Linked DNA regions of Homo sapiens. The protein of the gene in region 1 interacts with the protein of each later gene in a biochemical or structural test. Each region holds a gene or a part of one and is shown on either strand. Other genes may lie near its edges.

Evidence for each region.
Region 2: the proteins of GAS7 (region 1) and CYFIP1 form a complex in vitro, tested with the Homo sapiens proteins (one study listed by BioGRID).

What each region holds. Positions count from the first base shown.
Region 1 is NC_000017.11:10,188,328-10,192,137, reverse strand, and holds part of GAS7 (growth arrest-specific protein 7), read left to right. Parts: intron 1-3,810. UniProt on the Homo sapiens protein: May play a role in promoting maturation and morphological differentiation of cerebellar neurons.
Region 2 is NC_000015.10:22,942,228-22,946,037, forward strand, and holds part of CYFIP1 (cytoplasmic FMR1-interacting protein 1), read right to left. Parts: intron 2,713-3,810; coding exon 2,635-2,712; intron 2,433-2,634; coding exon 2,331-2,432; intron 1,128-2,330; coding exon 946-1,127; intron 1-945. UniProt on the Homo sapiens protein: Component of the CYFIP1-EIF4E-FMR1 complex which binds to the mRNA cap and mediates translational repression. In the CYFIP1-EIF4E-FMR1 complex this subunit is an adapter between EIF4E and FMR1.

The DNA.
Region 1 (3,810 bases):
CGTTGTGAAAGTTTAGTTGCAGTAGGTATATGAACTGTGAGAAGTTTTTGAGGAGTCTTAAGAGGATCCACCCACCTCCTTTCTTCACGTTTTCTGTCTTCCCTACCATCTTTAAGAATTTGTTTTTAGTTTAACTTCCTAGTTCTCCGTCTACTACTCTTCTTGAGCTTGGAGCTGGTTTTCAGATTCAACCTCTAGGTACTCAAATTTCATATGTCAAAACTAAACTCATCATCTCTCTCCTCTTTTTTTTTTTTTTTTTTGAGATGGAGTCTTGCTTTGTTGCCCAGGCTGGAGTGCAGTGGCGTGATCTCGGCTCACTACAACCTCCGCCTCCTGGGTTCAAGTGATTCTCCTGCCTCAGCCTCCTGAGTAGCTGTGATTACAGGCTTCCACCACCATGCCTGGCTAATTTTTGTATTTTTAGTAGAGGTGGGGTTTCACCAGGTTGGCCAGGCTGGTCTCGAACTCCTGACTTTGTGATTCACCCGCCTCAGCCTCCCAAAGTGCTGGGATTACAGGCGTGAGCCACCGTGCCCAGCCCTCTCTCCTCTCCTTACTGCCTTTTTTTTTTTTTTTTTTGACACAGGGTCTTGCTCTGTTGCCCAGGCTGGAGTATAGTGGCATGATCATGGCTCACTGCTGCCTTGACCTCCTGGGCTCAAACGATCCTCCAAGTAGCTTGGACTATAGGCACCTGCCACCATGCCTGGCTAATTTTTGTATTTTTTGTAGAGACAGGGTTTCACCATGTTTCTCAGACTGGTCTCAAACTCTTGGGCTCAAGTGATCCTCCCACCTTGGCCTCCCAAAGTGCTGAGATTACAGGCATGAGCCACCGTGCCCAGCCTCTTCACTGCCTTCTGTTCCCAACCTCTAAACCAAGCTTGTGGAACATGTGGCCCAGGATGGCCTTTGAATGGGGCCCAACACAAATTTGGAAACTTTCTTTTTTTTTTTTTGAGACGGAGTTCCGCTCTCGTTGCCCAGGCTGGAGTACAATGGCGTGATCTCGGCTCACTGTAACCTCTGCCTCCTGGGTTCTAGCGATCCTCCTACCTCAGCCTCCTGGGTAGCTGGGATTACGGGCATGCGCCACCACACCCGGCTAGTTTTGTATTTTTAGTAGAGATGGGATTTCTCCATGTTGGTCAGTCTGGTCTTGAACTTCCCACCTCAGGTGATCCACCTGCCTTGGCCTCCCAAAGTGCTGGGATTACAGGCGTGAACCACCGTGCCTGTTCTTAGGTTTGTAAACTTTCTTAAAACATGAGGGTTTTTTTTTTTTGTGAGATATATATTTTTTAGCTCATCAGCTATAGTAGCGTTAGTGTATTTTATGTGAGGCCCAATATAATTTTTCTTCTTTCAGTGTGGCCCAGGGAAGCCAAAAGATTGGACACCCCTGCTCTAAACTTTAGTGAATGTCACCACCATCTGTCCACCAAGTTCCCTGATATCTCTCCCCTTACCTTTCCTCTCCTGTTCAGTAGGCTAGCAAGCCTCGTCCCTTCCCTTCTTCCTTAGAAGCATTTCTTTTTTTCTTTTTTTTTTTTTTGAGACGGAGTCTTGCTCTGTCGCTCAGGCTGGAGTGTAAAGGCACGATCTTGGCTCACTGCAACCTCCACCTCCTGGGTTCAAGCGATTCTCCTGCCTCAGCCTCCTGAGTAGCTATTACAGGCACGCACCACCACGCCCGGCTAATTTTTGTATTTTTAATAGAGATGGGGTTTCACCACGCTGGTCAGGCTGGACTCAAACTCCTGACCTCATGATCCGCCCGCCTTGGCCTCCCAAAGTGCTAGGGTTACAGGCATGAGCCACTGCGCCCGGCCAGAAACATTTCTTAAAGCCTTCTCCTTCTTAACTTGCGTTGGCAAATCTTTCTGTAAAAGGCCAGGAAACATTTTAGGCTGTGTGGGCCATGAGGCAAAACTGAGTTACGGCTGCATCGGTGTGATCTGTAGTGCGCCAGAGGCAGTGACAAGCAGTGAGAGCATCCCATATGGTCTCTGTCACAACTAATCCACTCTGCTGCTGTAGTGCAAAAGCAGCCAGAGATAATCCGAAAGCCAATGGGCGTGCCTGTGTTCCAATAAAACTTTATTTATGGACTGAAATTTGAATTTGTTATAATTTTCATGGGCCGTGAAGTATTATTCTTCTTTTGATTTGTTTTCAACTTTTTTTTTTTTTTGGGAGATGGAATCTTGCTCTGTTGCCCAGGCTGAAGTGCAGTGGTGTGATCTCGGCTCACTGCAGCCTCTACCTCCTGGGTTCAAATGATTTTCATGCCTCAGCTTCCCAAGTAGTTGGGACTATAGGCACCCGCCACCACAGCCGGCTAATTTTTGTATTTTTAGTAGAGATAGGGTTTTGCCATGTTGGCCAGGCTGGTCTCCAACTCCTGGCCTCAAGTGATCCACCCTCCTTGGCCTCCCAAAGTGCTGGGATTACAGGCTTGAGCCACTGTGCCCAGCCAGCCATGTGACTATTTGGGGGAAAATAATTTGAGGCTGAGGGGGACTGCAGATGTACATAACCCTGAGTAGAGGAGTGTGTTTGATAAACCTGGGAGAGCCAGAATATTCCAGAATGGTTAGAGTGGCAAGTAGGGGGAGAGGGGTTGGGGGTGTGCCGGGGAAGGAGATAGAACCTGGGGAGATGGGTCATTTTCTAAATGCAGTGGAAAAGCCTTTGGTTTGATTGAAGTGGGTGGCATCTTCGGATGCGTTCTGGAAAGCTCTTCTAGACTGCAGGGTGGAGAATGGATTTGAAGAAAACAGGGAGGGGAGGCAAGGAGACCAGTTGGGAAGCTCAGAGCAGGGTGGTGGAAGTGGAGATGGTGAGAGGTGTGTGGATTTGGAATGTATGTTGCAGCTAGTGTCAACAGGTCTTGCTGGTGTGTTGATCGGAGGGAGTAAGGGAACCTCAGGGGGTCTCACTTCTTGCAGGTCACTTGTAATGCACTTTTTCCCTTTTGTATTTTCCCCATCTGTCCATCCTTTATTCTGCCACTAGAAATCTCTTCCCAAAAAAAAGGAGGTAAAAGGCAAATACAAATTTGGAAAAAGTTCCTTAATGTAGAAAGTGCTTTTATAAATTAAAACAACAAAACCCAAAACAAAGAGGAACATATCAGTATAAGAATGGGCAAGGAACTTGGATAGACACTTCATAATAAAACATATACAGGCTGGGCATGGTGGCTCATGCCTATAATCCCAGCACTTTGGGAGGTTAAGGTGGGCAGATTGTTTGAGCCCAGGAGTTCAAGACCAGCCTGGGCAACATGGGGAAACCCAAATTTTTTCTCTATAAATACAAAAAAATTAGCTGGGTGTGATGGTTCATGCCTGTAGCCCCAGCTACTCAGGAGGCTCAGGTGGGAGGATCGCTTGAACCCGGGAGGTCAAAGCTGCAGTGAGCCAAGACTGCACCACTGCACTCTAGCCTGAGTGAAAGCGTGAGACTCTGTCTCTTAAAACAAATGAACACACACACACACAAAACCATATAAAAAGTCCTCAACTATTTAGTCTCGCCAGTGATTGAATAATTGCAAATTTAATTAAAAAACAGCTTGAAGACAGAAATATGTAAAAAAAAAATGGTATTGGCAGGGTGTAAGGAAATGGTCCTGAGCTTCCTGAAGGACCATTTGGCACTGTACAATTCCACTTCTAGAAATTTCTTCTCAGGGAGCATCTGATATATCAGGCAAGCTGTAAATATCAGCGTATATTACATCACAGCCTCTGATAGCACAAGATGAACAACAACCTCAATGTACACCAGAAGGAACTAGTT
Region 2 (3,810 bases), on another chromosome or scaffold:
TAAAGACATAGCAACAGTTGTATGATTTAAAATGCAACATAACTAGAGCATATTCAGATGCAAAGTAAGGTCTCTTCGAATTTAATTTTAGAGCTAAGATGCCTTACTTAGCAGAGGAAATTGAAATTAGCATCTCATTCCAGCAAAACATGTCTTCAAAAGCACTGAGCACAGATGAAGCAGAGCAAGAGCATCAGGAGACAGCGTGCCAAGTGTCACCAAACGCCGGTCGGCAGCGTGCCAAGTGTCACCGAACGCCGGTCGGCAGCGCGCCGAGTGTCACCAAATGCCCATCGGCCACCCACTGCCCCACACTGCTCCAGAAGCACACACTGGGCCATGCCTGCCTCTTCCGCTCGTCTTGCCAGCCTCTCCAGAGGCTAGCTTCTCCAGAAGCTCTCTACATCCAGAAAGAAAACCACCAGGGAGAGGATCTGGAAGCGCAGTGTGACCACGAGACACCCTGTGACTGTGCACGGGCCACGTCTGCACATTGCTGGGATGGTGCTCATGTGCTGGGGACCCCCGCTGGCGAGTGACCGGCACCGAGGACTGCAGCCCCAACGCCCAAGGTAGGCTGCAGAGGCCACCTGCCCCCTTGCCAAGATGCTCCCTGAGCCAGATGCCTGTGCTCTGTGAGCTAGGCCTACATCTTGTGCATGTCTGTCTTCCCAGGGGCTCGAAGGTCCTCTGTGACATCTGAGGACAGCCAGGGCACGAAGAGCCTGCTCTAGCTGTGCAAAGCCACGATATGCACTTATCTGCTGGCTCCCCTCACCTTATCCCTCGAAGCAGGTGCTCACACAGCCCTGACACTGAGACGTAGCTGCTGCCTACCAGAAGTGACGACTTCAGCAAACAAAGACGCACACCTGCTGTGCACAAGGCAGGCCACTGAGCTGGGTGCTCTCGGGAGGGCCCGCAGTGCGCGAGGTGGGTGCTCACCTCTTGTACGCTGAGTGGTCGTTCTTCACACTGCACTTCATGTTCTTCAGCTCGTCCAGCACAGCGAACATGTTGATGAATTTGCCCAGTGTGATCAGGTAGGCTTCTGACACGAAGTCCTTCCTCCTCTCGGCATGGCACAGGCGCCTCACTTCCCCGCAGAAACGCTCAATGGCATTTCTCTGTGCAGAGGAAGCAGGAGGGCAGAAAGCTGCAGGTCAGTGAGGAGCCAAGCCCATGTCCCTCCTTCAAGCACCTGCAGTCACTGCTCCTCGATGAGAAACGATCTGCCCAGTGAGGCTCCAGGCCGAAGTGTTTACAATGTGGGCAACCAGACCCCTTCCTGAAAGCAGCTCCCACTGCCTGCTCTGCACCATCATTACTTGACTTGCACTTTACCAACTACATCACTAAAGTAACAAAATCTTGCTGATTATTCCAGCAAAATTACTGAGCAAAATGCTCCAATAAAACGCCTGTAAAATTCAGATGTTCTAACTTTCAGAAGTGAAAACTGGGAGAGATTTTTTTCCTCTTGGTAACTTTCAAGGTAAAACAAAAATTCATCTCCCAGTTAGTTCCATCTCCTCCCTTTGCTGAAGGACATCATCATAAAAAATCTGGATGTTTCCAAAATACTTCTTTAAAAAGCAGCAAGCCCCTTCCATGTGGCTACTTCTTGCCTAACCAAGGCCAGGGCGAGGACCACCAGGAATGGACAGTCAGGGTGAGGCTAACAGCAAGAAAATACCTGAAAGAGCAGACGAAAACAAAAGTACAAATTGGCCAGGCGTGGTGGCTCACACCTGTAATCTCAGCATTTTGGGAGGCCAAGATGGGCAGATCATCTGAGGTCAGGAGTTCAAAACCAGCTTGGCCAACATGGTGAAACCCTGTCTCCACTAAAAATACAAAAATTAGCTGGGCGTGGTGGCGGGCACCTGTAATCCCAGCTACTCAGGAAGCTGAGGCAGGAGAATCGCTTGAACCTGGGAGGCAGAGGTTGCAGTGAGCCGAGATCATGCCATTGCACTCTAGCCAGGGCGACAAAGCAAGACTCTGTCTCAAAAAAAAAAAAAAAAAAAAAAAGTACAAACTGGCAAAAAGTCAAAGCATTGTACTTGAAACTGACAGAAAGCAGGCTCCATGAAGGAAACATAAAATCACTCTCAGAGAAGAGAAGTGAACCACAAAAGGAGCGTTGATTCCGAAAGGGCATGAGGAACTTTAGACTGTCAAAGGCTTGGTCCCTTTTGTCTCAGAAACTGGTTGCTTTAATTTGCAGGCACTCTGTTCAGGGTGTTCACAGTGACAGTGATGGGTAGGAAGGGGTCAGCAACCCACCCCTCGGTGTTACACCCCCCCCAGATTATTTGCCATTTTACCTGGAAGTACATGAAATTCATCAGTTTTGTGACCTCAGGCTCCAGAACCTCCACGGTTTTCTCGTAGATTTCCACTCTGTTAGGCTGCTCGTTACATTTCACCTGGGAATAAAGGAACAAGGATGACATAAGAGGCTTTGATCCAGCCAGAAGCAGCCGCTGGGCTTCTAGAGCTAGTGATCCCGCCCTGCTGTGGGGTGAGAACTGGGAGGAGAGTGGGCCAGGCATGGCAGGGGCAGGGGTGTGGTGTGGCAGGGGCCTGGCAGGGTGTGGCTGGAGGGGAAGAGCCAGGCGAGCGTGGCACCTGTGGGATGGCCCGGGAGCAGCTCCTCCAGGTGTACAGCATGACAGCATATTCTTGGCCCTCCTCCAGCATCTCGTTCTGCAATGGAACACAGGGCAAATCAAAGGCAGGCGGGGGAACTAGCATGAAAAGCAGATGCCAGTTGCTAAAATCCAGACAAAGCGCCACAAACTATCCTAAGCACTGTGGCCTGTGTGCCAAGAGACGGCTGCCAGAAGCTAGTGACACTGAGGTGCGGCGCTGGGGGCCACAATGACCACCCAAAACACCCCATGGCTTCTGCAGGCGAGAGGGGTGTCAGTGACACGCAGGCATCTCTGAGGGGTGCCACAGGCGTTACACCTTGGCTCCACCCAGCCCTCAACAACCTGCTGGCCATGAGACCTGCAGTTAGGAACACAGAGGAAGGGCTCAGGGCAGACGCCCTGCCCGGTGTGAGCACACACAGGATCCCCATGGCCTCCTCACTGGCTCACAGGGCCTCCCGGTCCCAGAGAGGACTAGAGGCAGGGCTGCCAGCCCCGGGTGTGCAGGAGGAAAAGTTAGGAGCACGCCCACAGCACTTAAAATCTAGGTAGAGAGTCCATGGGAAGAGGACTGTCATCACTGCTGTAAAACTGCTTTTGCTTTCCACTCTTTAACATCGTTTCCTTTGGAAAAAATCAAATAGATGCTCTTAAATCTAGCCTTTATTTAGTGAGACGTTCATCACAGTATTTTTTTTTTTTTTTGAGACGAGTCTTGCTCTGTCCCCCAGGCTGGAGTGCAGTGGCACGATCTCAGCTCACTGCAACCTCTGCCTCCCGGGTTCAAGCAATTCTCTTGCCTCAGCCTCCTGAGTAGCTGGGATTACAGGTGTGCGCACCACCATGCCTGGTTAATTTTTGTATTTTTTTTTTTTTGTAGAGACAGGGTTTCACCATGTTGGCCAGGCTGGTCTCGAACTCCTGACCCTAGGTGATCCGCCCACTTTGGCCTCCCAAAATGCTGGGATTACAGGCGTGGGCCACTGCGCCCAGCCTACAGCATTTTTTTATTACACGACATAAAAGAGGAAGTCAATGCGCAAAAATAGTTGAATTGTGGACATTTACAAAATGGTTTACGTAGCCATTAAGGATTGCTTTCTCTAGCACATTTTCATGGCATGAAAATATTCTTGTCCAGGTGCAGTGG